Linked DNA regions of Homo sapiens. The protein of the gene in region 6 purifies or fractionates together with the protein of the main gene of each other region. This does not show direct contact. Each region holds a gene or a part of one and is shown on either strand. Other genes may lie near its edges.

The links.
Region 1: the proteins of AKT3 (region 6) and MYO1B purify together in Homo sapiens (affinity purification with mass spectrometry; one large-scale study listed by BioGRID and IntAct). This does not show direct contact.
Region 2: the proteins of AKT3 (region 6) and EIF4EBP1 fractionate together in Homo sapiens (co-fractionation; one large-scale study listed by BioGRID). This does not show direct contact.
Region 3: the proteins of AKT3 (region 6) and DAB2 purify together in Homo sapiens (affinity purification with mass spectrometry; one large-scale study listed by BioGRID and IntAct). This does not show direct contact.
Region 4: the proteins of AKT3 (region 6) and COBL purify together in Homo sapiens (affinity purification with mass spectrometry; one large-scale study listed by BioGRID and IntAct). This does not show direct contact.
Region 5: the proteins of AKT3 (region 6) and RPE fractionate together in Homo sapiens (co-fractionation; one large-scale study listed by BioGRID). This does not show direct contact.
Region 7: the proteins of AKT3 (region 6) and CHP1 purify together in Homo sapiens (affinity purification with mass spectrometry; one study listed by BioGRID and IntAct). This does not show direct contact.

What each region holds. Positions count from the first base shown.
Region 1 is NC_000002.12:191,248,404-191,251,903, reverse strand, and holds part of MYO1B (unconventional myosin-Ib), read right to left. Parts: intron 1-3,500. UniProt on the Homo sapiens protein: Motor protein that may participate in process critical to neuronal development and function such as cell migration, neurite outgrowth and vesicular transport.
Region 2 is NC_000008.11:38,033,534-38,037,033, forward strand, and holds part of EIF4EBP1 (eukaryotic translation initiation factor 4E-binding protein 1), read left to right. Parts: intron 1-3,500. UniProt on the Homo sapiens protein: Repressor of translation initiation that regulates EIF4E activity by preventing its assembly into the eIF4F complex: hypophosphorylated form competes with EIF4G1/EIF4G3 and strongly binds to EIF4E, leading to repress translation.
Region 3 is NC_000005.10:39,383,481-39,386,980, reverse strand, and holds part of DAB2 (disabled homolog 2), read left to right. Parts: intron 1-3,500. UniProt on the Homo sapiens protein: Adapter protein that functions as a clathrin-associated sorting protein (CLASP) required for clathrin-mediated endocytosis of selected cargo proteins.
Region 4 is NC_000007.14:51,306,810-51,310,309, reverse strand, and holds part of COBL (protein cordon-bleu), read left to right. Parts: intron 1-3,500.
Region 5 is NC_000002.12:210,009,138-210,012,637, reverse strand, and holds part of RPE (ribulose-phosphate 3-epimerase), read right to left. Parts: intron 2,982-3,500; coding exon 2,902-2,981; intron 1-2,901. UniProt on the Homo sapiens protein: Catalyzes the reversible epimerization of D-ribulose 5-phosphate to D-xylulose 5-phosphate.
Region 6 is NC_000001.11:243,549,744-243,553,243, reverse strand, and holds part of AKT3 (RAC-gamma serine/threonine-protein kinase), read left to right. Parts: intron 1-300; coding exon 301-515; intron 516-3,500. UniProt on the Homo sapiens protein: AKT3 is one of 3 closely related serine/threonine-protein kinases (AKT1, AKT2 and AKT3) called the AKT kinase, and which regulate many processes including metabolism, proliferation, cell survival, growth and angiogenesis.
Region 7 is NC_000015.10:41,234,268-41,237,767, forward strand, and holds part of CHP1 (calcineurin B homologous protein 1), read left to right. Parts: intron 1-3,500. UniProt on the Homo sapiens protein: Calcium-binding protein involved in different processes such as regulation of vesicular trafficking, plasma membrane Na(+)/H(+) exchanger and gene transcription. Involved in the constitutive exocytic membrane traffic.

The DNA.
Region 1 (3,500 bases), on a different chromosome or scaffold from region 6:
ATGTTAAGTGGGACCAGCAGGAATCTTGCAATTAAGATTCTTTGTGTATTTTGGGGGAGCTTTTTGTTGTGGTTGCAATGTGAAAATGCTTTCATGTAACCAGTGAAAATTAAGTAGGCAAATGACGTGTAAATGTATTATAATGTCGATAACTAATAATCTGTTCCACTGTCCTTTCAATTCAATTTTCTAAAAAGTCTTTAAAGATATTGCATTCTTTTTTTAAACAAATTTAAAAACCTGTAATGTACAATTCTGAAATACATTACTATATTTTCATTTTAACACAGCGAACTTAAGCCATCTGTGCAATCTTAAAGCATCTTGAGTCCAGGAAGAATTGGACTGAAAGTCCCCGGAAGGCAGAGATTTGGTTTCCTCTTAAGCCTCTCTTAAGCTATCAAGGAAAGACAGGCCCCTTGCATTTTCAGAAACTTATCAGGTGCTTATCTGATAAGCAAAAGAAGAATGTCAATTTTTACTTTTCTGCTATTTATAAAACTGCCTATCTTGGAAGAGTACAAATTTCACCCCAACTCTCTTCCCAAAACCCAGCTCTGCAATGGCATCCACACCGCTTATTCTCACACATCAAAGATCTGAGCGAGCTCCAGGACTGGATGCCCTGTGGCATGCTGCTCGCAGGCAGACTGGAGACCAGAGATCAGACAAACGCCCTGAAACTCCCAGATGACAATCTATTCCTGAAGATAAAGGCATGGCCAGCAAGGGGGTAAGAAAAGGGACTGGCTATTCAGTCTCTCACTAGCAGGCTGAATCTTGTCTCCCTCAGCTGGGGAAGGAGAATGACGCAGGACTGGGAAGCCAAAACACCCAGAAAAGGATAAACTGAGAAGCAGTTCAACCAATTCTCCTAGCTTTGGACCAGCCAAGGACACCTACAGGAATCCTGACTTCAGGTGACAAAGGAAACAAGCCAGGAAGGAGAGGGACAACAGCTGGGCTCTCCCTCTAACTCCTTAAAAAGAACTCCTTAAAAGTGACCAAAGCATCAAAGTACTCACCCAAAGAATCAAAGTTTTTGCCCAAAGCTCCACAGTACTCATTCAAAGCTTCACAGTACACTCTACCTGGTGGCACTTCGTTGTTCTGGAAAGCAAAGGGGTCTTTGAGGCTTGACCTCTGGGCTAGTGACTCAATTCCCTCATCTACAAATACCTCCTACTAAGGGATAGTGATGAGAAGGAAATCAACCTACAGAAAGTACCCAGCATGAGGCCTAGCACAAAGCAAGCACCCAATACTTAATAAACAGTAGCATGAATAATATCATATAACTCAATGTGAATGACTCATTCTTTGGAGATTTGGCATGTCTTGTCCACAAGAGCCTTTTAAAATGCAAATATGCCTGAAGTCTATTAACAGCCTTAGTTGACAGCCACATTGAACACAGGATGAGGAAGGGATGCTGGCAGGTGTGTAGAGAAGAGAGTTGGCGGAGGTACCAAGGACCTGCCATGCACCAGGGAAGACACTGCTATTCAAACCTTCTCGCATAGAATGGTAGTTTATATATCATTTTTTGGACCTCAGTCAGGGTTCTGAACCTGAACGCTTTCACATCATTGGAGATTGGAGGAAATAAAACCTAAGTCAGAGAAGCTGGCACCTGTGTTCAGTTTTCTTCCACTCTCTTGCTTCTGTTTGTTCTCAGCTTTTGTCTCAAAAGCAAGTGTTCCCCTGGTCTTGGTCACTACAGCTGTCATAGCCATTTTCTTCATTTCACCAACATCCACTCTTGGGATGCATCCACCTGCCCTGCTACAACGACCCTGAAAGCACAATGGATTTCCTTTCTTCCTTTTAAAATGGGTCTAATGCATTGTCTTGCATGACCTGTGTGCTTAATAAAATATGAACTGATGAGGAAGAGGCTGACAACTGCAAAGACCTACCAAAGGCTGTAAGAGTGTAATGCTGGGAAGCATCCTTTTTCCTCCTCTATGCTGCTTATGGTAAGTTGGAAGGTGCTCACCTGTTAGAGTTTAGCAAACCATGTGTCTGCCTCTCCTCCAGAGGCAAAAGTCTAAAATAGCCAGTGGAGGAGAATTTCATAGCCTGAGGAGACTAAAGTTACTCTCACCTATACCACAGAACTTGAAGACCCCAAATGGTGTCCTAGCTTGAAATAAATAAACAAGGCAGAACTTCCAGTCTTCAAATTCTTATCTTAGAAACAACAACAACAACAAAAACCTAATATTGACTTTTCCATTTGCCCAGGAGCATTCTGAGGAATCCACAAACAATCCATGATGCCAAGTGTTAAACTCCAGTCTGCTCCTGTACTTGGTGTCAAAGTCTGGTACCTCTTGCCCAGTGCCACTCTCAGTGCCACCCTAAGGACAGATACCACTGCTATTCCCTTTTCATGCAGATGCCTAAACTAGTTCACTTCCCCTGTGGGGAAGGGATGAGCACAAAAATCATGTGGAATGAGTGTTCCCACAGAGCTCAGAAATTTGATGATCTCAGAGGATACTGTAAAGAAAGACCCTTGACACTTCCCTAAGGAAGAATGCCTTCTGTAAAAGGCTACTGCCAGGACAAAAAGCATGTGCTGGGAAAAATCTATGGCCTGCTGCTGCGAGTGTTTCCAATTCTGATGTCCCACTTCCTCTTTATAAGCACATTCCTTCCCTCCTTATTTCTCTTCTTAAAAAGACACTCTGGCATCGGGTCTCAGTTAAGAAGCAAAGTGCAATGTTCTATTAAAGGCTGTAAGATAAAAAGGGCTTAAAATGGATTTCAATAAACATAAAAGCCTTGAGTGCAATATAAGATCTACTCTGTTCTACCACTTTTAAATGTTTCGAAAAAAGAACTTATTTTTAAATGTTGGCAACCTAACTTTTTAAAAGTAAAGTTTCATTCACTTACAGCTTATTCATACAGGCCATAACATACAGCTCTTTAGCAATACAGTTCTAAGAGTTGTAATGTCCTAACCTGGGCTTCCAAACCTATCTCACAGTGGTTTTTGGAAGAATCAACTACAATAATAGACGTGAAAGTAATTTGACATCTGCCAGGGGCTAACCAACTAGATAATCAAACTGTTGTTATTATTAAAATACATCATACCATACAGTATATACCTAAAGAGTATGGACTTTGGGATCCCCAATCGCACTTCCACCACTTAGTAGTTAGCTACACAAGCACAGAGGGTCCTCAATTTACAATGGTTCAACTTAGGATTTTTTTACTCTATAATGGTGCAAAAATGATAGGCATTCAGTGGAAATCATACTTAGAATTTTGAATTGTGATGTTTTCTGGGGCTAGCCACATGTAGTACGATACCCCATCACAATGCTGGGCAGTGGCAGCGAGCCGCAGCTCCCAGTCAGCTACACCATCACAAGGATGAACAACCAATACTCTACAGTGGACTGTGTTACCAGACGATTTTGCCCAACTGTAGGCTAATGTGACTGTTCTGGACACATTTAAGGTTCGGTAGATTAAGTGTA
Region 2 (3,500 bases), on a different chromosome or scaffold from region 6:
GTGTGGAGAGCCAGGCTTTTGATAGAGTGTCTGCATGGCTGTCTGCACCTGCTTACTTATAGGGACTGTCAGCTTCTCAGGAAAAACCATTGGAGTAAGTACCCCCCAGTCACTCCTGCTGGGAATGGCCCTCAAGTGATTGTCCCTGGAGGGAAAGAAGCAGCAGTTGGGTTGCACTATCTCCATTCCTATGACTCCAGTTTGCTTTCCTTTTTTTTTTTTTTTTTTTTTGAGATGGAGTTTCGCTTTGTCGCCCAAGCTGGAGTGCAATGGTGAGATCTTGGCTCACTGCAAGCTCCGCCTCCCGGGTTCACGCCATTCTCTTGCCTCAGCCTCCCAAGTAGCTGGGACTACAGGCGCCCGCGATCAAGCCCGGCTGATTTTTTGTGTTTTTAGTAGAGACAGGGTTTCACCGTGTTAGCCAGGATGGTCTCGATCTCCTGACCTCGTGATCCGCCTGCATTGGCCTCCCAAAGTACTGGGATTACAGGCGTGAGCCACTGCACCCGGCCCTTTTTTTGTTTTTTTCCTGAGACAGGGTCTCATGGTGTCACCCAGGCTGGAGTACAGTGGCACAAACATAGCTCACTGCAGTCTCAAACTCCTGGGCTCAAGTGATCCTCCTGCCTCAGCCTTGCAAGTAGCTGGGACTATAGGCACGTGCCACCATGCCCTGCTAATTTTTTTATTTTTTTGTAGAGGCAGGGTCTCTATGTATTACCCAGGCTGGCCTCAAACTCCTGGGCTCAAGCAGTCCTCCCACCTCAGCCTCCCAAACTGCTGGGATTGTAGGCATGAGTCACCTCACCTGGCCTCCAGTTTGCTTTCCATGGTCATTAACCATTTGCACACTGAGGCTCTGCTCTGAGGTTAGCTGTCCAGAGTACTTAAGATAATTTAATTGCCGAAGGGAGTGTCATGTATGAATATTTGAGTCTGTGGAGTCTTAAAAATATCCAGCGACACCATAAACAGCTCATTAGCCAGCAGAACCTTTGAGTGGGTCAGAAAGAAACTTTCCCTCATCAATCTCCACATTCCCAGCTCCGTGTTGCATGTTTGACTCTGAAGCCTATATACAGGCTTGGATGGCAGTTGTGCCAAAGACCCGTACCTGGATAAGGTGAATCCGAGGTGAGCAGGTAGGGCTGCAGGTGTTAATGGCACCCTGTTTGGTTAAGCAAACAAGGTCTGTGCCCAGGAAGCTTACCTTGGAGCAGCTCCCAAGTCTTTGGACATGAAACAGGCAGTGCTGGGAAGAAGGGGATGTAGGCTGGGCACCAAAGCCAGAGCACAGCCCATGTCCTGAGGCCTTAGTCACATGGAGGGAAGAAATTATTAAGGATGGGTTAAAAGAGCTTGGACATTAATGCAGTGAGGGAGAAACGATGGACCCTCTTCTCACATTTACCTGAGCTTCCTTTTAAAGTGTTTGAAGGAGCTGGGTGCGGTGGCTCACTCCTGTAATCCCAGCTATTAGGAAGGCTGAGACAGGAAAATTACTTGAGGCCAGGAGTTCAAGACCAGCCTGAGCAACATAGTGAGACTCTGTCGGTATAAATTAAATAAATAAAATTTTTTAAAGTGTTGGAAGCATTCCACACTGTGTCCCTTATTAAAGATTTGGTGGGGGGTTCCTGGTGTAGAGCACTCCAAAATCCCTCCAATCCCCAGACTCCTTTTTATTATTATTATTATTTTGAGACAGAGTTTCGCTCTTGTTGCCCAGGCTGGAGTGCAGTGGTGCAATCTTGGCACACTGCAACCTACGCCTCCTGGGTTCAAGTGATTCTCCTGCCTCAGCCTCCCAAGTAGCTGGGATTACAGGCATGTGCCACCACACCCGGCTAATTTTTGTATTTTTATTAGAGACAGGGTTTCACCATGTTAGTCAGGCTGGTCTCAAACTCCTGACCTCAGGTGATCCACCCGCCTCAGCTTCCCAAAGTGCTGGGATTACAGGCATGAGCCACCACACCCGGCCTTATTATTTTATTTTATTTTATTTTATTTTTGAGGCAGTCTAACTCTGTCGCCCAGGCTAGAGTGCAGTGGCATGATTTCAGCTCACTGCAGCCTCCACCTGCCAGGTTCAGGCTGAGACAGGAGAATCCCGGGTAGCTGGGATGACAGGCACGCACCACCATGCCCAGCTAATTATTTATTTATTTATTTATTTATTATTATTTTCCTCAAGATGGAGCCTTGCTCTGTCGCCCAGGCTGGAGTGCAATGGTGCGATCTCGGCTCACTGCAACCTCCACCTCCTGGGTTCAAGCAATTCTCCTGCCTCAGCCTCCCGAATAGCTGGGTTTACAGGCGCGCTACCACGCCTGGCTAATTTTTTGTATTTTTAGTAGAGATGGGGTTTCACCACGTTGGCCAGGCTGGTCTCGAACTCCTGACCTCGTGATCCGCCCGCCTCAGCCTCCCAAAGTGCTGACATTACAGCCATGAGTCACCGCGCCCGGCCTATTTTATTTTATTTTTGAGGCAGAGTCTCATTCTGTCACCCAGGCTGGAGTGCAGTGGCACCGTCTCAGCTCACTGCAGCATCCGCCTCCTGAGTTCAAGCAATTCTCCTGCCTCGGCCTCCCGAGTAGCTGGGACCACAAACCCGGCTATTTATTTTTGTAGAGACAGGGTCATGCTTTGCTTCTGAGTCTGACCCTCTAGTTTTTTATTATTTGAAAGGAGAGGCCAGGTGCGATGGCTCACACCTGTAATCCCAGCACTTTGGGAGGCTAAGCAGATCACCTGAGGTCAGGAGTTCAAGACCAGCTTGGCCAACATGGTGAAACCCCATCTCTAATAAAAATACAAAAAAAAATTAGCCGGGCCTGGTGGCAGGCGCCTGTAATCCCAGCTACACAGGAGGCTGAGGCACGAGACTCACTCGAACGATTCTGGGTGACAAGAGTGAAACTCCGTCTCAAAGAAAAAAGAGAGAGAGTTTGATTTTTTTGCTTCCTAAAAGACCAAAAAAGTCCTTCATTGCCAAATCTGAGGAAAAAGGGTCAGCAGAGCAATACCATATTTATCCATTGACATAAAGTAGCGAGGCATTTTCTCATATAGACCTTTATTTTCATGTTCTGGAAGATGAGTTAGGAAGGCACAGCAATATTGTTTCTTCTTTTTTTTTTAATTTGAAACAGGGTCTCACTTTGTCACCCAGGCTGGAGTGCAGTTGCAGCCTCAACCTCCTGGGCTCAAGCAATCCTCCCATCTCAGCCTCCCAAGTAGCTGGGACTACAGGCATGCACCACCACAACCGGCTAATTTTTGTATTTTTTGGTAGAGATGAGGTTTCGCCATGTTGCCCAGGCTGGCCTCAAACTCCTGAGCTCAAGTAATCCACCCGCCTTGACCTCCCAAAGTTCTGGGATTAGAGGCATGCTCCACTGTGCTTGGCCTGGGAAGGCACAGCAATATTGAAAAAAAGGAACATTGCTTTCTAAGGTGAGTTTTAAAAAAAAAAAATGTTCAGTTGTGCACAT
Region 3 (3,500 bases), on a different chromosome or scaffold from region 6:
CATTCTTCATAATTTTTGTTATAGTTCTGAGGATAAACTTTTTAAAGTACTAGACTAGATTATCCTGACAGGTCCATCCTAACTCTGAGGTCCTTTTGATTTGTAGTCAACTTTGTGCTCTCCTCCATTAGTGATGTTTTCTCAAATAAATCAGTATCTGAACACTTACTTCCCAAGTATAAATGACATTCAAACAAGTAATATTCAAAGAGAGCAAAGCACTCAAGATATGAAGTGGAATTCCACTGGAATAGGCAAGGAAGTACTGCCTATATAATCTACTTCTGTAGACTTCTAGAATGTTCTAAAAAAGGAAATGGAAAACAACATGGATAATCTTCAGTCTCATTTTTATTAGACTTTATGAAGTCTAAGAATTTTTTATTTATAGGAATTCAAGTTTTAGTTAAACTAACAATAAAGTAATAAATACCATCAAAATATATACTCTCTGATAACCAAAAGAAGGCTAACAGATCTAATTATGTGCTGGTTAGGCTTTGACATGTTCTTATCTATTGACTCTATAGTCATAGGTCAAAAATAGATTTATCTCTACTTGGTAAAGCCAGCATGTTTAAAAATATTCAACTCTTTCAACAATTGCTCTGAAATATGTAAAGAGAGAAAGAAATCTAAATTACCTAGACTTTATTATTGGTCCTAGATGGTTGTCACTCCCCTCAAATTTATACAGAAAAGTTTTATGAGTTTCAAATAATGCTCATGTTGCAAACTATGTGGTATCCCCTAGAACAGAATTTTTATTGGCAAGCCCCTTGAGCATTATCCTTCCACACTGCATCTCAAAAAAGGAAAAGAAAGAAAAACATAAAAACCCATGTTCTGCAACTTTAACAACCACTTGAAAGCACAGTTACTATGGAAAGAATATAAGACATGATCTGTGATCAAGGAGATTAAATCTGGTACAAGGGATGGGATCAGGATACAAAGCAGGAGTGTCACTTATGTCCTTGTGTACATGCCATAAGATAACACGGGTGGGCACAGGGCAAGTGCAGACAGAAAAATCGATGCTAAAAGCTTTGTAAAGAATCTGAATTTGAGTTGGGTCTTTGAAGTGTGTAGGAAAATAGATCATAGTTGGGCTAGAAACAACGTGGGTCTTATTGTGGATCATTTGGAAATTTGGCCTAAGGAGGTTTATTTTAATATAGGGAGCCAGCAGTAAGCCACTTAAGGCTTTGAGTAGAGAAGTCCTCAGTCTGACAAACTGGAATGGTTAGGTGAGATTAGCCACCCAGAGAAGAGCTAGGCTATGGAACTCAGGATTTATGTCCGATTACTGGAGCTCCCTACGAGCAGGTTCTGTAACGCACTGCCGTGTCTCCAGTGCGTGCGGCTCAGGTGCTCAAACAGTGGCCAACTGGAGGCAGTGTTGACAGTTCGACAAAGAATGAATGAGGCGCTGACCAAGTGGGTGGATGAGGAGTCTTTGGGCTCTCAGTTGTAGTCTGTGAACTACACTTTTAATCTTGGATTAATAACAAACCCAGCCTGAGGAGAGCCTTATACATTTTACTTATAGGGTGACTATTCAGAAGTCTAACATTGTGGCTCCTGTTTGGTGTCCTAAGAACTTCTTCTGAAGTATTTGAAAACGAGAACTCTACCAGCTGTGAACACTCAACTGTTCTAACCCAGAGGTGGCTCAAAACAAATAAATAAATATTGAAATCACAAGCTTTTGTAATACATTTTATCCTACCTTTTGATTGTATAAAGATCCCTAGATTAATAGCTCTTCCAATCCATTTCTCTGATTAAATTTTTTTTTAATTATAAGCTCTTTCTTGTGACAAATTCTTCTTTTATAAAGAGAAAGCCTGGCTTTGGCTTATAAAAACTGTATTTTTATGCCTCACAGTAAAGGAATCCAAAAGATAGATTACCATTTAGGTCTGATTTTGCTGTCTCTTTTGTGGCCATGAAATAGGACTTAAACTTTCTAAACAATTGGGTATTTTTTTTTCTTTTAAAAGCCAAGGAGTTCTATTTGAACCCTTTTGTATTTACTAGTTTGCAAATTTTATATTCCCTTGAAGTTGTTTATTTTCCCCAATGATCAAAATATTTAGTATTCTGCTCAGGGTAATGCAAGATAACTACTATAACTTGCACTTCAGCAAGGCATTTTTTATCATTTATATTCTTCTCTGGGTAGCATAGTTAAGTATTTAATGGATCAAAGTCAAGCAGAAGGAAGTGATGTCAGTATGAAAGTTCTGTTCTAGGATGAGTTATAATTCTGTCTTTTACTGGAATAAAGACATGTCGGATTCATCAAATTTACTGCTTTTAAGCTGAGAATTTTTTATCAAACAGTTGAAAATCCAAAAAATTAACACACCAGAGAAATGATAGAGAGGGGATAGAATTAGTAGAGCTACATATTTGATATGTCTTTCAAATTAACTCTTAAACCCATGTCTCTACCTTGTACAATAGTCCCCCTTTATCTGCAGTTTCACTTTCTGAAATTAAGTCTGTGGTCAACCTTGGTCTGAAAATAAGTGAGTACGGTACAATATAATATTTTGAGAGAAGAGAGACAGAGAGACCACATTCAAATAACTTTTATTACAGCATATTGTTATAATCATTCTATTTTATTACTTGTTAATCTCTTATTGTGCCTAATTGATAAATTAAACTTTATCATGTGTATGTATATGAGAAAAATACTGTATATAGGTTTTGGCACTATGTGCCATTTCAGACATCCACTGTGGGCCTTGGAACATATTCCCTGAGGATAAGGAGGGACTACTGTATATAAATTAAAGATCAGTTGTTGGTTGACTTTAACCACTAAATAGATGAGATTACTGTCACAACACAGGCAACTCTAAGCAATGTTATGAAAAGATGTACAAATAGGAGATCTTAATGTGTGATTGACTAAATTAGATCAGTATTGAGTGTCTCTTTCAGAGGACATAGACAAAAAGGGTAAGCCCAGAGGAGAGACTGGGATGATGAGGATGAGATCCTACTTGACTATCAGCTTCAGCAAGAGCCTTAAATATTAAGAGACATACCTGAAGGCCGTGATATAAAAGAAAAGCCTCTCTCCCACCTCTAGAGGAAAGAACTGGACCGATTTTAGGGAAATGCATTTGATCTTAAATTTCATCACAGCCAGAACTATAAAATATGAATGTATTAGTCGATGAATTTTCTCATTTAGAGAGATGATCCTACATGACTCTGGGGGTACAATAGAGAGGACTGTATGTGTATAGGTAGGAAGCTGAGCTAAGCTTCTGAAATCACTTACTTTCAAGCTCAACATACTTTGATAATCATTTATAGTGACTCACAATCAATTCCCTTTAAGACTTTCAAAGTCACAAATTGAAACAATGCTCATAATGAATTAAGCCAGTCTGTATGTGTGAACCAGGGTGAGCAGAGACATGAAGTAAGCAACAGTAAGATTTCACCTAATGAGGTTGAGACTTAAATAAAAGGGC
Region 4 (3,500 bases), on a different chromosome or scaffold from region 6:
GCAGCCTGCAGGCCCATCCTGATGGGGCCTCTCCAGACTTTTTCAGCCCAGGGCTGTCTGATGATGCTTCTGCCAGGTGCCAGTGTTCTCTGCCAGTGCTGCCAGACACAGGTGCTTCTGAACACTTGACTGGTGATTATTGCAACTGGGAGCTGAGTCTTTCACCTTTTAAAATTTTAATCCATTTAAACTTACATAGCTGTGTGCGGCTAGTTCCAGTGGACAGCGAGGCTCCAGCCTTTGGATTTGCCACTCTTTGTTTGCCACCGCAGCTTCCCAGGCCTCACCTGGGGTCTCAGGCTTTCTCTCTCACCTTGGCCTGGAGAGCTTTCTTGCCCCTTTCTCAGAATGCCTGTTGTTTAAGCTGCAGCTGGGGCTCCCCCAGGAGGCCTTCTGAGAGTATCCCTCTCACACCCCACGCCCTCCCCTGTCCGAAAACCTCCTATGGGATTATGATTGTCCCTTTACTTGCCCCTCTGACCCACTGAATTCTGAGCAGCTCCTTGGAGCCAGGACTATTACTTTGTAAGCTTTTGTGTCATTGGTTTGTGGCCTGTGATGCACAGAACAACCCCTGCTTCCTTCTTGCTGGTGGAGGGAGTTAGATAACATGATCTTAAGACTCATGTGAGCTCTAAAATCATATGATTCAGTGTTCCCAGAATATTCTAGAGTCCTCTTTCAAAAAAACTGTTTCTTAAATTGCTGCTTAAATCTTGTTTTTGCCAGCCTGTATGAGAACAGACCGATCAACTGGCACTAACATATTTGGAACTGATGTGCTTGGACTCAGCTTGCCAGCCATGCAGCCTAGTTCGGTGCAGATTTGGGAGGTGTTAAGAGGTCTTATTTTGAGGAACATAAAGTGACAGTGGCTTAAAGAGGAGATAATTCTCTCTCCTATCTAAAAGCCCACCTCGGGAGTCCTGGGCTGGTGTTGGGGTGCAGCGTTCCCAGAGACCTGCTGATTTTTATTTGGTGCTCAGCTGTGGCTGGTGTGCAGTCTCCATCTGTTCCAGCCTGGCCTGAGGAGGGGGAGATGCACCCCGTCCTTTCGTGCTCCACCTGCCAGCCATACAAGTCCCTTTGCTCATGTCCCCTTGGCCCAACCATAATCACATCGTCCTTAAAAGGGCAGCTTGGAGGCAGGGGGGATCAGAGATCTTAGCCGTTGTGATTGCATTTATGACTCCTGTGAGGGCCGGGGGAACGTAGGTGTTAAAGTGTGCAGATGGGTATGTGGCTCCTCTGCCCCTTGCCAGGGTCTTGGGAAGGGGTGCCCCTGACAGTTTCTGGCCTTTCTGAAAAACATGTCCTTAGTTTGCTGTGACACACACCCACGTTATATAGAGCTCTGACCTACAAAGCCTATGCTTTCCAGACATCTAAGGGGAGGAAGTGACGTTTAGACTGTAATCTTAAAGGCCAGTGGTAAACAGGACTTTGCATCTGCAACACATCGGGGTGCTGACGTCCTTTGCTTTTTATGATGTCTCTGTTCTCCTTGTCCATGCTACAGCCAGCCGCTTCCACTTATTCATAGTGGGCACCATCCTGGAGGAGTTGGGGAAAGAGGATCCCCCAGCCCCCAATTAGGGTAGTTGCACCTGGGAAAGTCAGAGCTTCCTGCTGGTTTGGAGGAGGTAGGCAAGTTGGAGAGACTCCTTGTTAGAATGAGGAGCATTGGCAAAGCGTTGTCTTATCATAAGTGCTCTGCTAAGTGCTCTGCGTGGCTTAAGGACTCATAGAGCTGGAAGAGGAGAAATACCAAATGGATTAACTTTGCAATTACATGTGGATGGCTTGAGCAGTTAAGTAAGTAGCAAACTAAGGCTAAGGAACATAATGGGAAAACCAGCTGTTTGTGTGAATGTATGTGTGAGTGTGTGTCTGTCTGTCTGTCTGTGTGAGAGTGGGCGTGAAGTTAAAGCTAACTTCCAGCACTTGGCAAAGCAGCAGATTACCAAATCAGTTCTGGCGGTTTTCAAACTTAATGGCTTGGGAGTTGTATTTAAAAATAGTCTTGGGTAGGAGTGTTAATGCAGCCGAAGTGTATACTTTTGTTCATGTGGCTAATTTTTTAGTCTCTAAATACAGTTTGGTTGGCTAGAACCCTCTTAATTAAGTGCAAAATCCACTAGTGTTCAATGCACAAACTGTTAGGCTGGAGGGAGACTGATCGACAGCAGCCAGAGTCTAAACATTTGCCATGCAGGGCAGGTCCTTGCCAGGCTTTCCCGTCCGCCCACCTATCCATCTGTCTTGTTGTCTATAGCTACCAGGTAGAATTGGTTTTGGGTGGAACTGAAAACTTCCTTCCTCCTGCTCCTGCCTAAACCACTTATTACGTGATAATGGTTATCTGCGCTCTGACAACATCACACGTAGGAAGAGTGAATTGCAGATCTCTCACAAGAGCCAAGCCACCCAATTGGATTTAAAAAGTGGGAATTGGGGTGATGAAGTCTGAATGTTTTTCATGCTGTGACAACGCTCTAAATTGCTACACTTTACCACTTCTCAGAAATATTTGATTGGTTTCAACGGCACAAGCCATAATCAAAGACTGTGTTCTGAATGCAGTTAATTTGTGAATTTCACAGTCAACAGAAAAGTAAGGAAAACTAGTTTGGAAGCTAGACTAAACTGAAAAATATGTCAGTTTGGAATATTTCCTTATTATTTGTCCATTTCTTTTTGCTTACCATCATGTTTCACATTTTTAGAATGATAGATTTTTCTAAAGGAGGACCCAAAAAATGTTCTTTGCAAGGACTTGCCTTATTTTGGCATTAGAGCCACTTGCCTGTTGCCATTGTCTAGCTGACAGAGATAGGAGATGGCCAGAACCTGCTCCTTGTGTGTGGGAGGTCTGGCTCTCCCATCAGGGCCCTCTGATGTTGGTAGGACAGTACTGTCCTCTCCTTTTTTTGTTTTTGTTTTTGTTTTTGTTTTTGTTTTGAGATGGAGTCTTGCTCTGGCACCCAGGCTGGAGTGCAGAGGCGTGATCTCAGCTCACTGCAACCTCTACCTCCTAGGTTCAAGCAATTCTCCTGCCTCAGCCTCCTGAGTAGCTGGGATCACAGGCCTGCACCACCACGCCTGGCTAATTTTTTTTTGTATTTTTAGTAGAGCCGGGGTTTCACCATATTGGTCAGGCTGGTCTTGAACTCCTGACTTCAAGTGATCCACCCGCCTTGGCCTCCCAGAGCACTCGGATTATGGGCCTGAGCCACTGCACCCGGCCTGTCCTCTTGGTTTTGTAGGTGAGATTGCCATGTGACTCTGACGTCTCTCGTCAGTGTCCACGTCCTCATCGTTGGCCACTCTGCTAGGCCACATTGAAGCACGGAGCTCATTTCCAAAGCTGCTTTATGAAAGCTACTGCTCTAGCTCCCTGCAGGATGAAGGAGGATGTTGCTCTGCTCTATTTCTGAAGCCCTGGAGTGTCTCAGCAGCATTTTGCCATGAAAAGCCAGTGTGCCTGCAGACATTCTTAC
Region 5 (3,500 bases), on a different chromosome or scaffold from region 6:
GTTCTTTCAAACAAACATAGTGTTCTGGAGGAAAGCAGCTAGTTCAGATCACACCTCTATGGTGCAAGTGGTTTTCCTTGAGAAAACCATTATGTTCCAGTATGCAGCAATGCAGCACAAGCACTTTATATGCACTTCCTACTTTGCCACACAAAATATTAAAAAGGCATGTATTCAGGGACCAAGATTTATTAATTTCTACTGCTTCATCAAGGATATTTATTGCAAATGCATGATGATGAAGAATAACTCCTGATACAGTCCCTGCCTTGAGTTGGTTAAGGCACCAGCAAACTAACTCATCAATGTTTTTGTACCATCAGTAGAAATAATGGCAAATAATTTCTTAGGATTATGAAAATAGTTTTGATATACTCTCATGGATGACCCGAAAGGGTCTTAAGGATTTGTGTGGGTCCTTATACAACATACTTGAGGATCACTGATTTAGACAATAACAGGAACAGACTTTTCCCATCACTGTATTTCTTAGACATTTATTTCTACTCAATATGAAAACTGAACAGTTAAGAATGTTAGCGTTACATATACAACACAACATGTAATCTAGGTCCTAGAATACATTCATGTATCAATTATCCAACAACCAAAATCCAAGAATTAAACAAATGTTTCTCAATATAAAAAACAAAGGTAGTCGGGCTCAGTGACTTACACCTACTATCACAACACTTTGGGAAGCCAAGGCAGGAGGATGGCTTGAGCCCAAGCATTCAAGATTAGCCTGGGCAATACAGGGAGATCCCATCTCTACAAAAAGTAAAAAAAAAAAAAAAAAAAAAAAATAGCCGGTTGTGGTGGCACACACCTGTAGTCTTAGCTATAGCTGTGGCGGGAGGATTGCTTGAGCCCAGGAGTTCAAGGATGCAGTGAGCTATGACTGTACCACTGTACTCTTGCCTGGGTAATAGACGGAGTCTGTCTCTTAAAGCAACAACAACAACAACAACAAAAAGCGAAAAACCAAAAAACAAGGGTCACAAAACCCAAACATTAAAGTGAATGGAGTTCATTTATCTTTTAGACCAAATTCTAGAAAGATTAATTAGCAAGTTTATCAACAAATTAAAAACAAGAAGAAAAAGCAGATTGTGTGTGGTGGCAGCAACACAGGATTGCTAAAAGGAAAGGCACTGACAGGAAGGGATATAGACAATAGTATGGTGTGACAATGGGAGCCCAAATAAAAGGGAGCGAAAAGGGGAAAAAAAGCAAGCATTAAAAAAATTCACACAAGCAAGCCAGAAGCGAGGATTCTGGCCATTGGTTGTACAGTGGGAGAAAACAATGCTATTTATTTCATCTACCTCTCATGGTCATGAGAACAACCGTAATTCATAGGAAAAGTCACGGTATCTGCTATATAAGCTAATCATGGCTTAAAAGAAAGTTTAGATAATCAGAGGACTATATCCCATTATATGGAAATTTCAAAATGGTGAATATATTGGTGGAACATTGTTTCCTCATGCCACATAAATGAGGTAATAATGTACATTTTCTTTGGTGAACTCAAAGTAGATAGATCCTACACAGAGGCTGGAGACTATATTCAACAGAATTTTCTGTGATATTGGAAATGTCCCATAGCTGCACTGTACAATATGTGACTACTGAAGACTTGCAATGTGATTAACGTGAATAAGAAACCGAATTTTTAAGTTTATGTTATTTAATTTAAAAAAAATTTTTTTTTTTTGACATGGAGTGTCACACTGTCACTCAGGCTGGAGTGCAGTGGAATGACCTCAGCTCACTACAATCTCCACCTCCCAGGTTCAAGTGATTCTCATGCCTCAGCCTCCTGAGTAGCTGGGATTATAGGTGTTTGCCACCACGCCTGATTAATTTTTGAATTTTTAGTAGAGACAGGGTTTCACCATGTTGGCCATTCTGGTCATGAACTTAAGTTTATTTAATTTTAATAGCTACATGTGGCTTATGACTACCATAGTGAACAGCACAGAGTCCTTCATAAAACTGGTCAGCAATATGCTGATTAAAAAGAATCTAAGTTCTACTAAATTGTAAGCTACGTTAAAAAAACTATTTATGGCTAGGCTGGTGGCTCAAGCCTGTAATCCTAGCACTTTGGGAGGCCAAGGCAGGTGGATTGCTTGAGCCCAGGAGTTTGAGACTAGCCCGGGAAACATGGCGAAACTCAGTCTCTATTTTAAAAAAAAGAAAAAAATAAATAACACTATTTATAAAAATGTGTAAAATTTCTCATGTTTAAGAGATCTGGCAGGTGAGACATTGCTAACTTAACATAAATCACTTGTAGGCCACTAAGTAATCTTAAAAATCTTAATTTACATTGTACTAGGACATTGGAGTGAATATTTAGGCACCACTTGTAGAAAGCTCCAATTTGCACAAAATAAATGGCTTCTGGACCATAAATCAACTGATTCATAAATTCACTTAACAATTACACTGAGCCCTGATCATGTCTATGCTTAGCTTTAGGAAAACCACAGTAAACAAACTGGATTCAATCCCCGCCCTCAGAGAGTTTATAGTCTAATAAAAGTAATCGCAGATCAAAGGAAGTTCTCAGAGGAAAATCAACAGGTGATAAGATAATTGGATAAAGGTTAATTTGGGAGAGGACGCTCAAAAAGGCCTCTCTGAGGAAATGACAAATGACTTGAGGCCCAAAGATGAGGCAGCCAGCCAAGCTACTACCTTTCCATGCAGATTAGCCAAGGCCCAGAGGCAGGAAGAAGTTTGGCTTGTTACTGGAGTCAGGCCAATGAAGACCCAGGATAGGAAAGTTGGGGAAAGGGTGCCAGATGAACTTGGAAGTTAAAATCAACCATCCAGTTTTCCTTTACTTGAGCAACACATCCAGCTTCAGATGGCGTAACACCCACTTACCAAAGAAAGGGTCCTGGCCTAGCTGCTTTCGAAGGCTTTCTACCACAGGGTGACCAAAGGTGATGTTGGGAACAAAATGCCTACAAGACAAACAAAATCTACTCTGAAAATGTTTTCAATTCAGTTTCTGTATCTCTCTCAATATGAATTCTGACACAGGTTGAGGGGATTGTCTGCAATGTTTTTCAATTTAATACTTAATCATCAGTATTAAATAATACTAAAAATAATGGGTCATTTTGGTTTTACTAGGCAATGTCTCCTTGACATTTCAACAAATCACGTCACATATATTTTCATAATGATTTGACTCCGTAATTCACGACCCATGACAAGTAGAAATGGAGAGATGATAAAATCAGAAACCCTCAGGCTTTATGACTTGCCCAAGTCACACACTAGTTAGTAAGTTCTGGACTCTAATATTGATCTCCTGAATCCTAGTCTATCTCAGGAGGCCTGTGGCTACTTCTAATCACTTCTATCACAAGGCACTAAATGACAGTTTCTTTAAACTTTCTTAAAGATGACTAATAAAGAAACATGATGTGTTTATTAGTAACGACCACCTTTCACCGAGGGTTTACTACATGCCAAGC
Region 6 (3,500 bases):
TGCTAGCTAACGTTTTTCATTTGATCCTTATGTATATTCATGTACTTGGGATTTTTTTTTTTTTGTACGACCTGCCCCTTTTTTTGTACACTGGCCATTTGTGGATATATATTGAATATTTCACATATTTGATGTGATTTGTATTTTTTGTAGGATGCTTCACAGTTTAAATGTCAAGATCTCAGACTACCTAGGCTTTGAAAGTTAAGATTCATTTTTATGTAAAAATCTTATGTTTTATGAATAATGCTTTAAAAGTTAACATGTAATAATTAATCTTTTTACTGATTTCACTTTTAGGTGTTAGAAGATAATGACTATGGCCGAGCAGTAGACTGGTGGGGCCTAGGGGTTGTCATGTATGAAATGATGTGTGGGAGGTTACCTTTCTACAACCAGGACCATGAGAAACTTTTTGAATTAATATTAATGGAAGACATTAAATTTCCTCGAACACTCTCTTCAGATGCAAAATCATTGCTTTCAGGGCTCTTGATAAAGGATCCAAATAAACGGTAAGCCTCAAATAACGCTTAGTGAATTACTGATGAATGTGGTTAAAAATTGAGATATGGAAATTAATTCAAATATAACTAACTCCAAGAAGCAATGTATTTGGTGTAGACATCTTCCCACTGAGATCCTGACTTATTTTTAACTGCATAATATAGAACATTTAAAAATTTTTCTCAACTCTTTCCTAACTTGGAAATTTTATGCAGATTTACCAAATAAGGATTTTGAGAGTTTCATTATCCATATTATGAGTGAAAATTTCTTAATTGCTCTGTTACTTGATCTTGTGGGGATAGAAGAATCACTTTTCTTTCTTTCAGTCTCTGGGCCTTTGTATTTCTTATAAAAGGAATAGACCTATTTTTCAATACTCTCCTCCCACCCGCAACCTGTGTTAACATATCTAATTGCATTTTTTTTTTTTTTTTTTTTTTTTTTTGAGACAGAGTCTCACTCTGCCACCCAGGCTGGAGTGCAGTGGCGCGATCTTGACTCACTGCAACCTCTGCTTCCCAGGTTCAGGTGATTTTCCTGCCTCAGCCTCCCGAGTGGCTGGGACTACAGGCACCTCCACCACGCCTGTCTAATTTTTGTGTTTTTAGTAGAGACGGGGTTTTGCCAAGTTGGCCAGGCTAGTCTTGAACTCCCGACCTCAAGTGATCCGCCTGCTTCGGCCTCCCAAAGTGCTGGGATTACAGTCGTGAGCCACCGCACCCGGCCTCTAACTGCTTTTTTGTCATTTGAAAATAATCTTTTCTATGCATAGCTGAAAGAGTTGATGGCAAAAAATAATTGTACACACTTTTAATTTCTGTTTTTGTAGCTACAGCTATGAATTGAAGAACTCTATGGCTCTTGCTGCTTTGTTCAATGAGCTACAGTATTTTTATTCATGTTTATACATTCATTCATATTTATAAATTCATAAATCATATGTGAAATGACTATTAATATTAAAATGTTTCTTAATATGTGTGTTTGTATATGGATATATCTGCCTTCCCATCTAGGTATCTGTGCATATCAGTATTTCTCTGAGTCTACTCATTTGAAGCATAGATGATTTCACATATTGTTGAATATTTTATAATACCTCACATAGAGTTTTATGAAAATGTTTTACGTATGGTTGATGCTCATATATATATATATTATATATATATGAGTGGGTTAATGAGTGAATCCCAAAAAGTTGGATTTTTAAGTCTATCTGAGAAATGGTTTTCATTGTATTCTTCTAGCTTTTAACCTTGTAAGGAACATGGCTTTATCTTCAGCAGAAATAAGCAAACATAATAAAAGAGATATTGTCTTTCTGCTTTGTGAAGACTCATTCAAGAAACATTTTGTAATCCTAGCTGCAGATATTATTTATATGTGTAAAGTGATTTTGTTTTCTTCTTCAGAGCACTTTCACAGCTATTAATTCCCTTGCTTTTTCAGGAGCCTTGTTGGGTGGATAGGGGAGATACTATTCTTATTTCCATTTCATTGAGTTGAAAACAAAGGCCCAGAGAGGGTTAGGTGATTTCTTCAAGGTCTCTCAGAACATTCATGCAGACCAAGAGTAGAAGTCAAGTTTCTTGGTGCCTATTTGGTATTTCTTATGTATCTTATTTACAATGCAGCAGTTTCTCAGTTTAAGTTTTGAAATGTGTTCCGTTTGATAGCGTTCTTTTACAATTAAGTAAGGAGCAGCACCCGATGATAGGTAACTTTAAACAGAGTGGTGACTTTTATCTTTTTTTTTTTTTTTTTTTTTTTTTTTTGAGAGGGAGTCTCGCTCTGTTGTCTGGGCTGGAGTGCAGTGGCGCAATCTCGGCCCACTGCAACCTCCGCCTCCTGGGTTCAAGCAATTCCCCTGCCTCAGCCTCCTGAGTAGCTGGGACTACAGGCGCCTGCCACCACACCTGGCTTTTTTTTTTTTTTTTTTTTTTTGGTATTTTAGTAGAGATGGGGTTTCACCATGTTGGCCAGGATGGTCTCCATCTCCTGACCTCGTGATCCACCCCCCTCGGCTTTCCAAAGTGCTGGGATTACAGGCATGAGCCACCGTGTCCAGCCGACTTTTATCTATTTCATTTTTTGGTCTAATATTTGGCTTGGTATTCGAGGCAGTGAATATTTATCTCATCGTTTTCTTATTCCTGCAGGCAACTTTGACCACCCTTTACTTTGTGGCCCTCTTTATATAAGTGGCTAGTAGAACAAAATGTACTTGTGGTTTTCATGTGTATGTCTCATTCATTTTTTTTTATTTGTCAGCCCACTCCATGAATAGCACATAGTCGGTACTTAGGAACTATTGAATGAATGTGAGGCAAATTCTTAGAATGTTAACCGCCTAGTATGTATTAATAGAACAATTCCTAACTGTTTGTTCACCAGGAGGTTGATATTGATCTAATGAGAAGATGCAGTATTTTCAATGATCTAATAATTTCTTTTATAATAGATGTGTCAAGCCCCTCCACTGCTGCATCAAAATACAGAGAATACAAGGATGAGTGAGATGAACCAGTCTCTGCTCTAGATGTTCATAGAATAATTTGGGGCACAAAACATATACTCACAGATGCTCAGGTCAAACTACATACAAAGTACTGTTGAAATTATTGGCTTTGTCTAGGGGATTGGGGGACTTGAGCTGGATCAGAAAGGAGTTTGAATTTGCATTGGCACTCAAGCACAGAAATTTACATGTAGAGTATAGCTAGGATTGCAAAAGAACATGGCATTTGAGAAGTTCAGTGACTAGAGTGTAGAATATGAGTTGGGTAACACTGGGAAATGAAGCTGATATATTAGATTATAAGGATCTTAGGTTTCTTAGAAAATATTTAATCTTCATTCAGAAGAGGGTGAGATACTGCTTAAGTGTTTAAAGCAAGGGATAGTATAATCAGATTTGTGTCATGAAAAGGTAACTCTGGCAGCTTTGTCATGGACAGATTAGATGAGTGAGGATCCAGGGGCAGGCAGAG
Region 7 (3,500 bases), on a different chromosome or scaffold from region 6:
TTTCAAGGAGTAATTTGGTATGATGCAAAAGATTTTGAAGAATAAAAACGGATATCTGGAGTGGGTAGAGAGGTGGAATTTGTCCCATTTTCATCTGCCTTTTCTTCTATGAAGAATTTGGAAAACTATCTATCAGAAGCACTTTAAGAACAATTATAAGACATTTTACTACTTCCTTTGCCAGTACAAAATGTAACATAATTGAGGAATACTAAATTTATATTCAGTGCAAAAGCTGTGCATTGGAATTTGATGATTATATTTAACCATATTTTTTGCAAATTTAAAAAGATTAGAATTTCTACATGACTAGATTAGCTGGTATTTGATATTTAATGAATAACAGTAAGTGTTTGGAAAAGTAATTCTGGATAAGAATTACCTGTGATCCTCAGTTTCATCATCTGTAAAATTAGAATAATAATAGTGCCTACTTTATAGGATTCTTACGACAATTACATGAGATGAATTATGCAAACTACTTAGAATAGTGTCTGGTATAATAAACTTCATGTGAGTGTTATTATTTTGAACCATAGTTAACAATCGTCTTATTGGGAAAATACCATTTGCATGTACTAGTTATAAAAACTATGTGTAGGGCTATATCATTGGGGAGGTGACAGCATTTTATACTTCTTTTTGTAGTGGACAGTTGATTAGGAATTAAGTACAGATGTTTTGCCAATTATAAGGAAATAAAATTTTTAAAGGAGTTTTTAACAGTTTATGAAACTGTTATGATGTTTTAACAGGAATTGTCTAAGAAATGCTTTCTATTGGCATATTTGCTAAATTATCTTTGTTCTACTACCTTCTTTCAGACTTCTGCATTTTCATAAAGCTTATTTGAAAAAAAGGTGTAATCGGGGATAAAGCCACAAATGTCTTAGGAGTTTCTGTAATCATCACCCTTAATTCACTTAATTGTAGCAATAAGCTGGCTGTGAATTACTTAAAACTTTATGAGGCCAGGCGCAGTGGCTCACACCTGTAGTTCCAGCACTTTGGGAGGCCAAGGTGGCAGATCGCTTGAGCCCAGGAGTTCAAGACCAGCCTGGGCAACATAGGGAAACCCCATCTCTACAAAAAAATAAATTTAAAAAAAATTAGCTGGACATGGTGAAGCGTGCCTGCAGTCCCAGCTACTCAGGAGGCTGAGGTGGGAGGATTGCTTAGGCGGGAGGTCAAGGCTGCAGTGAGCCATGTTCGTGCCACTGCACTCTGGCCTGGGAGAAACAGACCCTGTCTCAAAAAAAAACAAAAACAAACAACAACCACAAAAACACCTTGATAAACAATTCATGCCATTCAAGTAGTAATGAATGCAGATTATTTTTAGTCTCTACCTTTTGGTATATGTCATGTGGTACGGGAAGGGTGTTGAACAGGTTTAGGAAGTAAGTTGCACAGGTTGGTAAGGTTTTGTTTGTTTGAAAGAGTGTAGTAATGATAGAGTTCTAACAGAGTACAAGCCTGGCAAAGGCAATTGCTTGAGAACAATATCATGGCTAGAATGTAAGTAGAAATTCAACTTCAGGTTTCTCGTGCCTCCAAATGTAGGACCCTTCACAGCCCTCACCAGCCTGAAGGTTCTGTCACTTCAGAAAACCAGGCTGTCTTCTGCCTCCTATTGAAATGGAAATGCATGGATAACTAACACCTTTAACTGGTTTTGGGTTAAGTGATTTGTAAAGCTCTGTACTTTTTGAGTTCTAGTGCAAAGTTTTATTCTCATTTGTTGCCATAAAGGAGTAAGAAGCAACTATTTGTCAATTAGAGAGGGCATTGTGGGAAAGAGACCCTAAGAACTTTTTTTTTTTTTTTTTGAGACAGGGTCTCACTCTGTTGCCCAGGCTGGAGTGCAGTGGTGCAATCATAGCTCATTGCAGCCTCAAACTCCTGGCCTCAAATGATCCTTCCACCCCAGACTTTCAAAGTACTGGGATTATAGATGTGAGCCACTGTGCCTGGCAACTACCTGATTTTTAATTTTTATTTATTTATTTTTTCAGACAGGGTCTTGCTCTGTCATCCAGGCTGGAGTGCAATGGCATGATCACGGCTCACTGCAGCCTCAAGCTTCTGGGCTCAAGCAATCCTCCCAGCTCAGCCTCCTGAGTAGCTGGGACTACAGGCACATGCCACCACGCCTGGCTAATTTTTTAATTTTTTGTAGAGATAGGGTTTCACCATGTTGCCCAGGCTGGTCTTGAACTCCTGAGTTCAGGTGGTCCGCTCATCCCAGTCCCCCAAAGTGCTGCGATTACAGAGGTGAGCCACTGGCCAGGAACTTTTTTGCGGGGGCAAGGAGGGGATGGTGGTCCAGACCAGAGAGTAGTTGGAGGTTTATTCATTCAGAAGATAATTGACCCCAGCAGCAGCTGCGAAGATATAAGCTTTATTTTTGTAAATTTCTGGATAAACCATTTGAAAGTTGCAGGTATTGGAACTCTTTACCCCTTCATACTTCTGCATGTATCCCTTAAGTATTGGGATGGTTTTTACGTAACAACAATACTATTATCACACCTAAGAAAGTTGATAATACTTCTTAATACTATCTTTTTTTTTTTTTTGAGACAGAGTCTTGCTCTTGTTGCCCAGGCTGGAGTGCAGTGACTCGATCTCAGCTCACTGCAACCTCTGCCTCCTGGGTTCAAGCCATTCTCTTGCCTCAGCTTCCCAAGTAGCTGGGATTACAGGTGCCTGCCACCAGGCCTGGCTAATTTTTTGTATTTTTAGTAGAGATGGGGTTTCGCCACGTTGGCCAGGCTGGTCTCGAACTCCTGACCTCAGGTGATCCACCCACTTCAGCCTCCCAAAGTGCTGGGATTACAGGCGTGAGCCACCGCACCTGGCCCCTTTTTTTCTTTTTCTTTTTTTTTTTTTAATTGAGATGGAGTTTCACTTTTGTCGCCCAGGCTGGAGTGCAGTGGCGCGATCTCAGCTCACTGCAACCTCCGCCTCCTGGCTTCAAATGATTCTCCTGCCTCAGCCTCCCAAGTAGCTGGGATTACAGGCATGTGCCACCACGCCTGGCTAATTGTTTTTATTTTTAGTAGATACGAGGTTTTACCATGTTGGCCAGGCTGGTCTCGAACTCCTAACCTCAGATGATCTGCCTGCCTCAGCCTCCCAAAGGGCTAGGATTATAGACGTGAGCCACCTTAATATTATCTATCATTCACTTCCTATTCAAATTTCTCCAATTATAAGAAGATAGATTTTGTTTGTTTTATATAATGTTTTAAAATCTCTCTTAATCCCTAAGAGACTAGTCCAGGGCTTGAAGTCTTCATGTCAGGGGGAATGTTAAGGTGTAGTCTATTCCGGGAAGCGCAGGCTTCAACTTTCCTTTATCTAGAGCTACCTTTAGCTGTACTTGTAATCTTTACATAGGTTATCAGTCTGTTCTTCTGCATTAAGATTTGGAATAAAGGCAAGGACAAAATAACTTTTTCTTTTCTTTTTTTTTGAGATGGAGTCTCGTTCTGTCA